Linked DNA regions of Homo sapiens: region 2 is linked to region 1. The links come from fine-mapping of genetic effects on gene expression. A gene starts in region 1. The other region holds a variant in brackets. All regions are shown on one strand. Distances are between the middles of the regions.

Region 1 (4,385 bases):
CTCCGCCTCCCGGGTTCAAGCGATTCTCCTGCTTCAGCCTCCCGAGTAGCTGGGATTACAGGCGTCCACCACCATGCCCAGCTAATTTTCGTATTTTTAGTAGAGATGGGGTTTCACTGTGTTGGCCAGGCTGGTCTCGAATTCCTGACCTCATGATCTGCCCACCTCAGCCTCCCAAAGTGCTGGAATTACAAGCGTGAGCCACCGCGCCTGGCTGAGAGACAGTGACTTTCACAGTGAAATCCCTCACTCAGGGATTTCAGCCCAGCTCTCCTGCCCGTTTCACTACACCAGAGCTGCCTTCATGGGTTGCTGCAAATGCCATCCTTAGCCTGCCCTGTACAGTCCCTTCTGCTGTATATATCTGTACTTCTCTCTTCCCTTCTAGGTGTGTTCCGGGGTGGTCATGACATCCTGGTGCGCTCCCGGCTGCTGCTTTTGGACACAGTGACAATGCAGGTGACAGCCAGAAGTTTGGAGGAGCTGCCAGTAGACATCATCTTGGCATCTGTGGGATAAGAGGCCAGCCTGCATAGGACCTCATACCCTTCCCCAACACTACCTGGAAGTTGTGCCTTCCTCATGAAACTGGCAGAAACCCCTTCCCAAGCTTCTGTATTGAAAAACAATTAGGAATCATTGCAGATTTTTTTTTATTCTGCTCCCACCTCCCACCCGGGACTACTTGCTGGTGACTTTTTTTTTTTTTTTTTTTAAATAGGGGATGATTTTAGCTTGTCCTAAATCTTGCTGTCCACCCTTCCAGGAAAGGGACATTGTAAATGAATAAAACATTCTCAACTCCTCTTGAATCTATCCCCCAAGAAACCATCTTATCCCTGTAATAAATCAGCATGTATTTATTGAATGATTGCTACTTCTGCAGACTCATGCTTCAGGGCTCCACCTTCCCCTTCAAGGCCTCCCCTAAAGAGGCAGAACACCTGCCCTGTCCCCCTTGCACCCACAGCCCTTTGGCTGTTGTAGTCCTGTGAGGCAGGACCCTCTCCCCGTCATCGCTGTCCCAGCACCAAGCCCAGGGGTGGGAGCGGTAGAGGGTGGTTGAGTGAATCAGCTAACAGGCAGAGTTCACACTCCCTCCCGTTCGTGCTTCTTCACAACGCATCCTCCTTTGATAGTCGATAAATGGAGGCTCCAAAGGGCTTGGGTCCTGTGTCTGATCGTTCCAGCATCTGGTCTTACATGGAGTGTGCCCTGGGGTTTCTGCTCCCTGTTCAGTTCAGCGAATCAGCATAGGCGAACAGCCCTCTAGAGCATTCTCTGTTGGTTGCAGATGAAGAATCTCCGGTTTAGGTCCCAAGGGGAGCAGGCTTTTAAACTCAAGCCAGGCTATTTTACCAACTTTGAGGCCAAAGTACACCCGAAAGGGCTGTTTTAAAAATCTGGGCCTCACCCTTAGAGATTCAGCTGAGGGGCTGGGGCAGGAAAGGCTTATTCTAGTGCCCACCAATGTTTGAGGGCGAAGTGCGCGATTCCTGGAAGTTCTTCTGACTTTCATTTCTTCAGTGTTCCTCCATTTTTGCCTCGCACTGTGAGGCAGCTGGCAGGACTGTGAAGTAAGGAGTGGAGTTTCCTGGTTTCCCGCCTTCCATGACCCTGTGCCCTAGACTCAGCGCGGCGGGAACCTTCCCTGCCAGCCCTGAAACACGCTGGGGGCGGGGAGGAAGGTTAACCCCGCCAGGGAACGGCCAATATGGAGGAAAGTGGAGTCCCGAGAAGCTTGGGATCGATATGTCTCCCAAGGCAGTCACTGTCTCCTGGGGAAACGGGAGAAAATTCATCCCAAACCGGAGGGGAGAAGACGCCGCCTCCGGGGCCCGAGGGCACCGCGGGAACCAAGGGCCCTTGGGGGCGGGGCCTGGCGCCGGGAGCGCGGGCTGAGGCGGGGCTGACGTGAGGGGCGGTGACGCGGGTGGCCAAAGCGGAGCGGAGCGGGGGTGAGGAGAGTCGAGGGAGGTGACGCGCGCTGCCGGGGCGAGGTGAGGGGAGGGGAGGCGACGCGGGCGGTCGGGGTATGGCGAGGGGAGGGGAGGGGAAAGGAAGCGACGCGAGCTGACAGAGGGGAGCAGAGGCCCGAGCGGACGCGAGGCGACGCGGAGAGGGCGGCCTGGGCCGAAGTGAGGCGACGCGGGGCGGCGGAGTCTGAGGGCCGGAGCGGAGCGGAGGCGACGCGGGGAGGGGCGAGGGATCGCGGCCGGTGGCTGGGGGCCACCTGCTCCCCGAGCACCGGCCCCCGCTCCGGGGAGCAGAGTCCGGAGCGGGATCCGCGGCCCACAGGTTCGCAGGTCGGGCCCGGGGACGCTGCGGACTAGCGGGCGGGAGGCGGGGATTCTGCACCCCGGCCCCGGGCCGTCCAGTGGCCGCCCTCGAGGTGACCGGTTGCTGGCCGGCGTGGGTCGCTGACCCCAGCGGGGACTGGGGGGAAGGACGGGGAGTTGGGGGCACCAAGTCACCCGGAGGAGGCGACCCCAGCTAGCTGCGCTTGCCCTGCTTCGCTGGACTGTGAAGCCCCCTCCGCTGCGGCTCTTCCTGCGCTCAGGCAGGCATTTGCAGAGCTCCTCTCGGGACTTGCCTCAGTGCCCTGCACGGAGCTGGGCAGTGGGCTCAGGGAGCGAAGCAAACGGGCACATCCTTGTCTTTGTGGGACTTTTTGGGGAAGACTTTAGACGGTGGTCACGGAGGGGCACGGCCCTGTGGGAACGGAAAGAGAAGGCGGGGACTCAAGGAATAAGACCTAATATTTGAGATACGTAAGCCTTTTCCTTACGTTTTGTAATTTAAAGGTTGCGAGGGGCGGTGTTGAAGAATGTGTGGGCGAACATCCTGTCACTTACCTAGAGATGTTCTCACGAGAGCTTGCGCCTACCAGGATCGGCGGGGCCAGCAGCGGCTCCCGGAGTGGAGGGACCCTGATAAGTACTGCCCCTCTTACAACAAGAGTCCTCAATCCAACAGCCCAGTGCTTCTGTCTCGACTGCACTTTGAGAAGGTAACCAGCATTGCACTATGCTAGCCCCTCGCCCAGCCTCGTGATGGTCATCTCCTATTTGGTTTGGTGTGTGCTCAGCCTCTTGGGATGACATTAAAAACCAGCCTTTACTGATATATTCTGACTTCCAGTTGAGAACCTCTCTTGGCCTCATGAAAGAAGTTTTATCAGTGGCTTCTAACACTGATAAAGACGTATTTTTCAGGCTCAATTTAAATGCCTTTGCTATACATGGCATACTAGCCTTAATATATGCCAAATTTATATGAGCTTTGTGTTTTAAAATAGCAGCTTTCACTGATCATCAGGGTCATTGGAGTATCTTAAAAATATAATAAAAAAATTTAAGGCCAGGTGCCATGGCTCATGCCTGTAACCCCAGCACTTTGGGAAGCCGAGGTGGGAGGATCACTTGAGCCTAGGAGTTGGAGACCAGCCTGGGCAACATAGGGAGACCCCATCTCTACAAAAAATAAAAAAATGAGGTGGGAAGATCACTTGAGCTGGGGAGGTCGAGGCTTCATGAGCCATGGTTGTACCACTGCACTCCCACCTGGGTGACAGATCAAGACCCTGCCTAAAGAAAAAATTTAAAAAAATAAAAAATTTAAGAATATTTCTATGCCCTTTACCAGGCCAGCTTAATCAGACTTCTCTAGGCCTAGGACAGGCTTAAGATCAGTTAATTTAAAACACTTCTGATGTTTCTTGAGCATTGAAAAGTTTTATTCTTTCTGCTTGTGTTTTCAATCTTTTTGTGTTTGTCTTTTACTAAGGCTAGAAACACGTATTTGGTTTGGTTATCTGAAGTTTAATTGCATTCATTGTGTTTATAGTATTTATCCCTGTAGTGTTGGAATTACCAGTCACTTACATTCATATTTTAGTTTTTTGCCTTATCTCCTGAAAGTGTGTGTGTCTTTGTATGTGTGTGTAATAAAAATGCTTCGTTCTAGAAAGTAATAGTTTCTCCATGTCTTAAATATTTTAAATGACCTTGACATGTTTTTAAAAATCGTGATTGTTGGCTGGGCACGGTGGCCCACGCCTGTAATCCTAGCACTTTGGGAGGTGGAGGCGGGCGGATCACGAGGTCAAGAGATCGAGACCATCCTGGCCAACATGGTGAAACCCTATCTCTACTAAAAATACAAAAATTAGCTGAGTATGGTGGCACGCACCTGTAGTCCCAGTTACTTGGGAGGCTGAGGCAGGAGAATCACTTGAACCTGGGAGGTGGAGGTTGCAGTGAGCTGAGATTGCACCACTGCACTCCAGCCTGGCGGCAGAGCGAGACTCCATCTCAAAAAAAAAAAATTGTGATTGTTTCCTTCCTGAATTTTGACTGTATTTGATTCATAATGCTGAAATCACT
Region 2 (4,385 bases), 58 kb after region 1:
AACGTAACATCAAAATAGCCGACTTTGGGTTTAGTTCAACATTTGCAAAGAGAGACTGAGAACGTTTAATGGGACTCGCCCTTACGCAGGCCCAGAACTCTTCCTGGGCCATGGATGGGTACCAATGACCTGCCATCAATGTTTGGAGCCTTGGCATCATCGTATGCAAAATGGTGGCTGGGGACCTGCCATTTTATGAGCAGAACTGTAAGGATATACAGAAAAAAAAAAAAACAAAACTTAAAATAGTACTGCTACTTTTTTTTTTATTTTAATGGAAAAAAATATTTAAAAATTCTTCACACTCAACCCCAGGGAGCAGCTTCCACTGGACCAGCTGTTGAGGGACTCCTGAGTCAATAGCGACCAGAAGACATGGTTCAAGCCATACAGAGAGCCACTCCTGGACCTCCCAGGCCCCACAACAACCCAGCTCATAGTGGCCAGGGGATTCTAGGCAGAGCATATCGAGGAAGCGATATTAAAAAAAAAAAAAAGAAGTCATCCCATGGCCACCTACCTAATCAGGGAGTTCAGAAAAGTGCAGAGGAGAAAGGGTTCCAACATCGGAGCACAATCCCTCCTTCCTGGGGGCCCCACCTGTCCTTCCCCATCTGCCACATTTAAGTCAACCTTCCCTGTCCAACCGAGAGGAGGACTCAAAACCAGCCGACCTTTCCCACTTTCTAATTCACAGAAGCACGAACAGGAGCATCCCTGGGAGTCAGGGCAAACCCTACCTGGCCTGGAGATGAAGCCAGCCATTCCCAGCAAAGCCCCCAGCATAAGCCTGTGACTTCACCCTCCCCAGAGCACCAGCAGCTATGGGGGAACCCCCAAGGAGACTTGTCTCAGGGAACCCACTGGGAAGTTGGCTCACTCCATGTGGAAGACCCAGAAGAGGTGACTTGGTCGGAGGGAACCCCCGGGAAGCCAGATGGTGTAACCTCAATCTCTGTGACCAAAAGGAGCCACGGATGCCATTGGCAAAAGATGTTTCAGTTTCATGCTGCAATTATGTTGTTTCTGACTAGCACAAAAAAGTCAAAGGGAGAAATAAGGCAGCACCAGTGAACCCAATGGACAGCTGGGCCGAGACAAAAACCAAGTGGGTGGGGCAGTCGAGCTACACTTCCTGTGTTTTATTACATTTATTATGTTCTTCTTAATATTATTTTAATTGGCAAATCATGCTTGCATTCATTTATGAGATACAGTGTGAGGATTAGATGGATGTGTGCACATTGGAATGACAAAATCACACTACTTAGCATCTCCATCACCTCAGAAAGACAAATTCCGTGTGATGTCCCTGAAGTGTTCATCTAAAAAAGCTGACCTCATAGAAGTAGCGAGTAGATTGATGGTGAACAGGGGCTGAGGAGCAGATGTGTAGAGGGGTGGCAGAGGGAAGAAATGGGGGGGTTGTTGGTCAAAGGACCAAAGTCTCAGTTGGAAAGGATGAAGAGGTTTTGACATCTAGTGCACCGTAGGGTAACCAGAGTCAATGGGAATGTATTGCCTATGGCAAAACACCTGAGAGAGTCCATGTCGAATCCTGGCATTCAGAATGGAGAAAACAAAGGCCCTGAGGTTCAAGAACATTAAAAACCTTGGGACAAATTGACCATGTGTAGACTCCAACAGCTGTGGGTGAGAACCGGGCAAGATGACGACGCTGCCATGTGCCCAATACACCTGGCCCAGAGGCATTCAGCAGAGGACGGAGGTGTCCAAGCTGCTACCAGGGTCAATGAACAGGATTCAAAAGTCAAGAGGGCATCTGGCAGCCCTGTAGCCTTCAAAGGCCTATCCAAAGCTACAAGTGAGCTGAAGGACAGCCTGGAGCCTCCTGAAGAACAGAGGGCCCCTCCACCCCACCTGGCCCAGGGCACCATCTCTTCCTCCTGTCTGTCCCCTGCTTCCTCTGTGCTGCCGCCTCCCCCTTCCTCCCCACTCAGCTCCCTGCAGTCCTCTCTCCACCCTTCCAAGGTAAACACAGCTTGCTGCTCTCCTGAGGCCCTGCTAAGACTGTGGTTTCTGGTCCCCGCTGAACTCTGGGACTTGATTTCCCTGGCCTTTTCCCCCACCTCCTTTCTGTTTGTCCCAGCCCCACCTCCAACTCCCTCCTCCCCAATTCCCCCTCTGCCATTCCTAATCCCCTCATCCTGATTCCTTTTTGCTACATTTTCTCTAGCTAAATCATCTTTTATTCACTTGCTAATAATCTATCCCTCGGTCTCCTGGATGTCTGTCTTGTGCAACATAGAATTATGAAAATCTAGAAATTGGAATCTAACTCCTGGCCCTAGATAGGACTCAGGTTTTGTGAAAGGGAGAAAACAGCAACAACAACAACAAAAACCAAAAGCAAGCCCCACCAAATCAACACCTAGTCTAGAGCCTGATATAAGTGCCACTCAAAATGTGTTTCCTTCCTTTATTCTTTTTTTTTTTTTTTTTGAGACAGTGTCTTGCTCTATCACACAGGCTGGAGTGCAGTGCC[G/A]CAACCTTGGCTCACTGCAACCTCTGCCTCCCGAGTTCAAGAAATTCTCCCTCAGCCTCCCAGTAGCTGGAATTACAGGTGCCCACCACCATGCCTGGCTAATTTTGTTTTTTTGAATTTTTGGTAGAGATGGGGTTTCACCATGTTGGCCAGGCTGGTCTCGAACTTCCAACCTCAAGAGAGCTGCCCGCATCAGCCTCCCAAAGTGCTGGGATTACAGGCGTGAGCCATTGTGCCTGGTCTCCTTCCTTTATTCAATAACCAGAGAATTCTTCCTGAAAAAGGTGGCCCCTGAGACCATTTGGAAGCATCACAGGGTGGAGGGGCAAGGGTCCTGCGAGCTGGTCTTGCCATCCCTTGTCCCCCAGTTTACATGAAGCCGAGCTCCAGAGAAGAGACAGGGCCCGTGGGGCATTTGGATTACACTCCAAGTCTAATTCCCAGTCCAACAATCCTTCCCGCAGAGGCTTCCTTCATCTGTCCACTTGGCCAAGGAAGGAGCAGGTCAGCTCATGCCCCCTGCCTGGATGCAGACAACAACCATCAGAAGGCCATCCATGTAGCCGGGGCCCCAGAACAATGTCTGCTTGGAAAGGGCCCAAGGAGCTGGAGCCCTTTAGCCTCAAGAAGAGCATGAGGGACCCAGCACCCTTCTGAAACCTAAACCACATTCTGGCCTGAGCCATTTTGCACTGTCTGTGCCCTAGAAAGTTGTGAAGGCCTGTAAGTGGGTCTTCCTGTTTCCTTGTCTTCTGAGGCCCAGGCCTTTCTCAGAGCCTCCGTGGGTCCCACCCCTGCACCCATCACACGGTGTCTGGGCCCTGCCTGCCTGGCTCACACCCCCCACCCCCACTCACTGTCCTATTTCCATCCCTGTGGATGGACATAGGGGACACCGTGCTAGGCACTGCTGTTCTCTCTCTTAGAAGACTTTCATAGGCCCTGCCCGTCCCTTTTGCCAATTGATATCATTTGGCTGTGTCCCCACCCAAATCTCAACTTGGATTGTATCTCCCAGAATTCCCACATGTTGTGGGAGGGACTCAGGGGGAGGTAATTGAATCATGGGGCCAGTCTTCCCTGTGCTATTCTCATGATAGTCTCATGAGATCTGATGGGTTTATCAGGGGTTTCCGCTTTTGCTTCTTTCTCATTTTCTCCTATTGCTGCCACGTAAGAAGTACCTTTTACCTCCTGCCATGATTCTGAGGCCTCCCCAGCCATGTGGAATTATAAGTCCAATTAAACCTCTTTTTCTTCCCAGTCTCAGATATATTTTTAACAGCTGCGTGAAACAGACTAATACACCAATCAAGTGAATGTCACCTCCTCAGAGAAACCCTCCCTGAGCACCCCATCTGCAGTAGGGTCACCTCCATCTTCCACCTTCACTTTTCCTGGTGTTTCCTTCTTTTTTTATTTTATTTTATTTTATTTTATTTTTTTATTGATCATTCTTGGGTGTTTCTCGCAGAGGGGGATTTGGCAGGGTCATAGGACAATAGTGGAGGGAAGGTCAGCAGATAAACAAGTGAACAAAGGTCTCTGGTTTTCCTAGGCAGAGGACCCTGCGGCCTTCCACAGTGTTTGTGTCCCTGGGTACTTGAGATTAGGGAGTGGTGATGACTCTTAACGAGCATGCTGCCTTCAAGCATCTGTTTAACAAAGCACATCTTGCACCGCCCTTAATCCATTTAACCCTGAGTGGACACAGCACATGTTTCAGAGAGCACGGGGTTGGGGGTAAGGTCACAGATCAACAGGATAATAATTTTTCTTAGTACAGAACAAAATGAAAAGTCTCCCATGTCTACCTCTTTCTACACAGACACGGCAAACATCCGATTTCTCAATCTTTTCCCCACCTTTCCCCCCTTTC

What was found. PIP is the estimated chance that this variant, and not a neighbour inherited with it, causes the effect. A credible set is the group of variants that fine-mapping cannot tell apart.
Region 2: its variant is the best candidate, but not a certain one, in a credible set for the expression of HMCES in whole blood (INTERVAL, PIP 0.54).

The regions. Positions count from the first base shown.
Region 1 is chr3:129,276,906-129,281,290 of GRCh38, forward strand. HMCES (5-hydroxymethylcytosine binding, ES cell specific) reads left to right here and starts at 1,965. Exons shown (of 7, transcript NM_020187.3): 1 at 1,965-2,000; 2 at 2,805-3,010. The coding sequence starts at 2,828. It overlaps COPG1 (coat protein complex I subunit gamma 1), which reads left to right. Exons shown (of 24, transcript NM_016128.4): 24 at 389-868. The coding sequence ends at 519. RefSeq lists silencers at 1,820-2,169, 2,180-2,569 and an enhancer at 2,990-3,119.
Region 2 is chr3:129,334,537-129,338,921 of GRCh38, forward strand. It overlaps the pseudogene MARK2P3. Among named protein-coding and RNA genes, the nearest start is that of H1-10, 20 kb to the left of the region's middle. The variant G/A (reference allele first, on the strand shown) is at 2,507.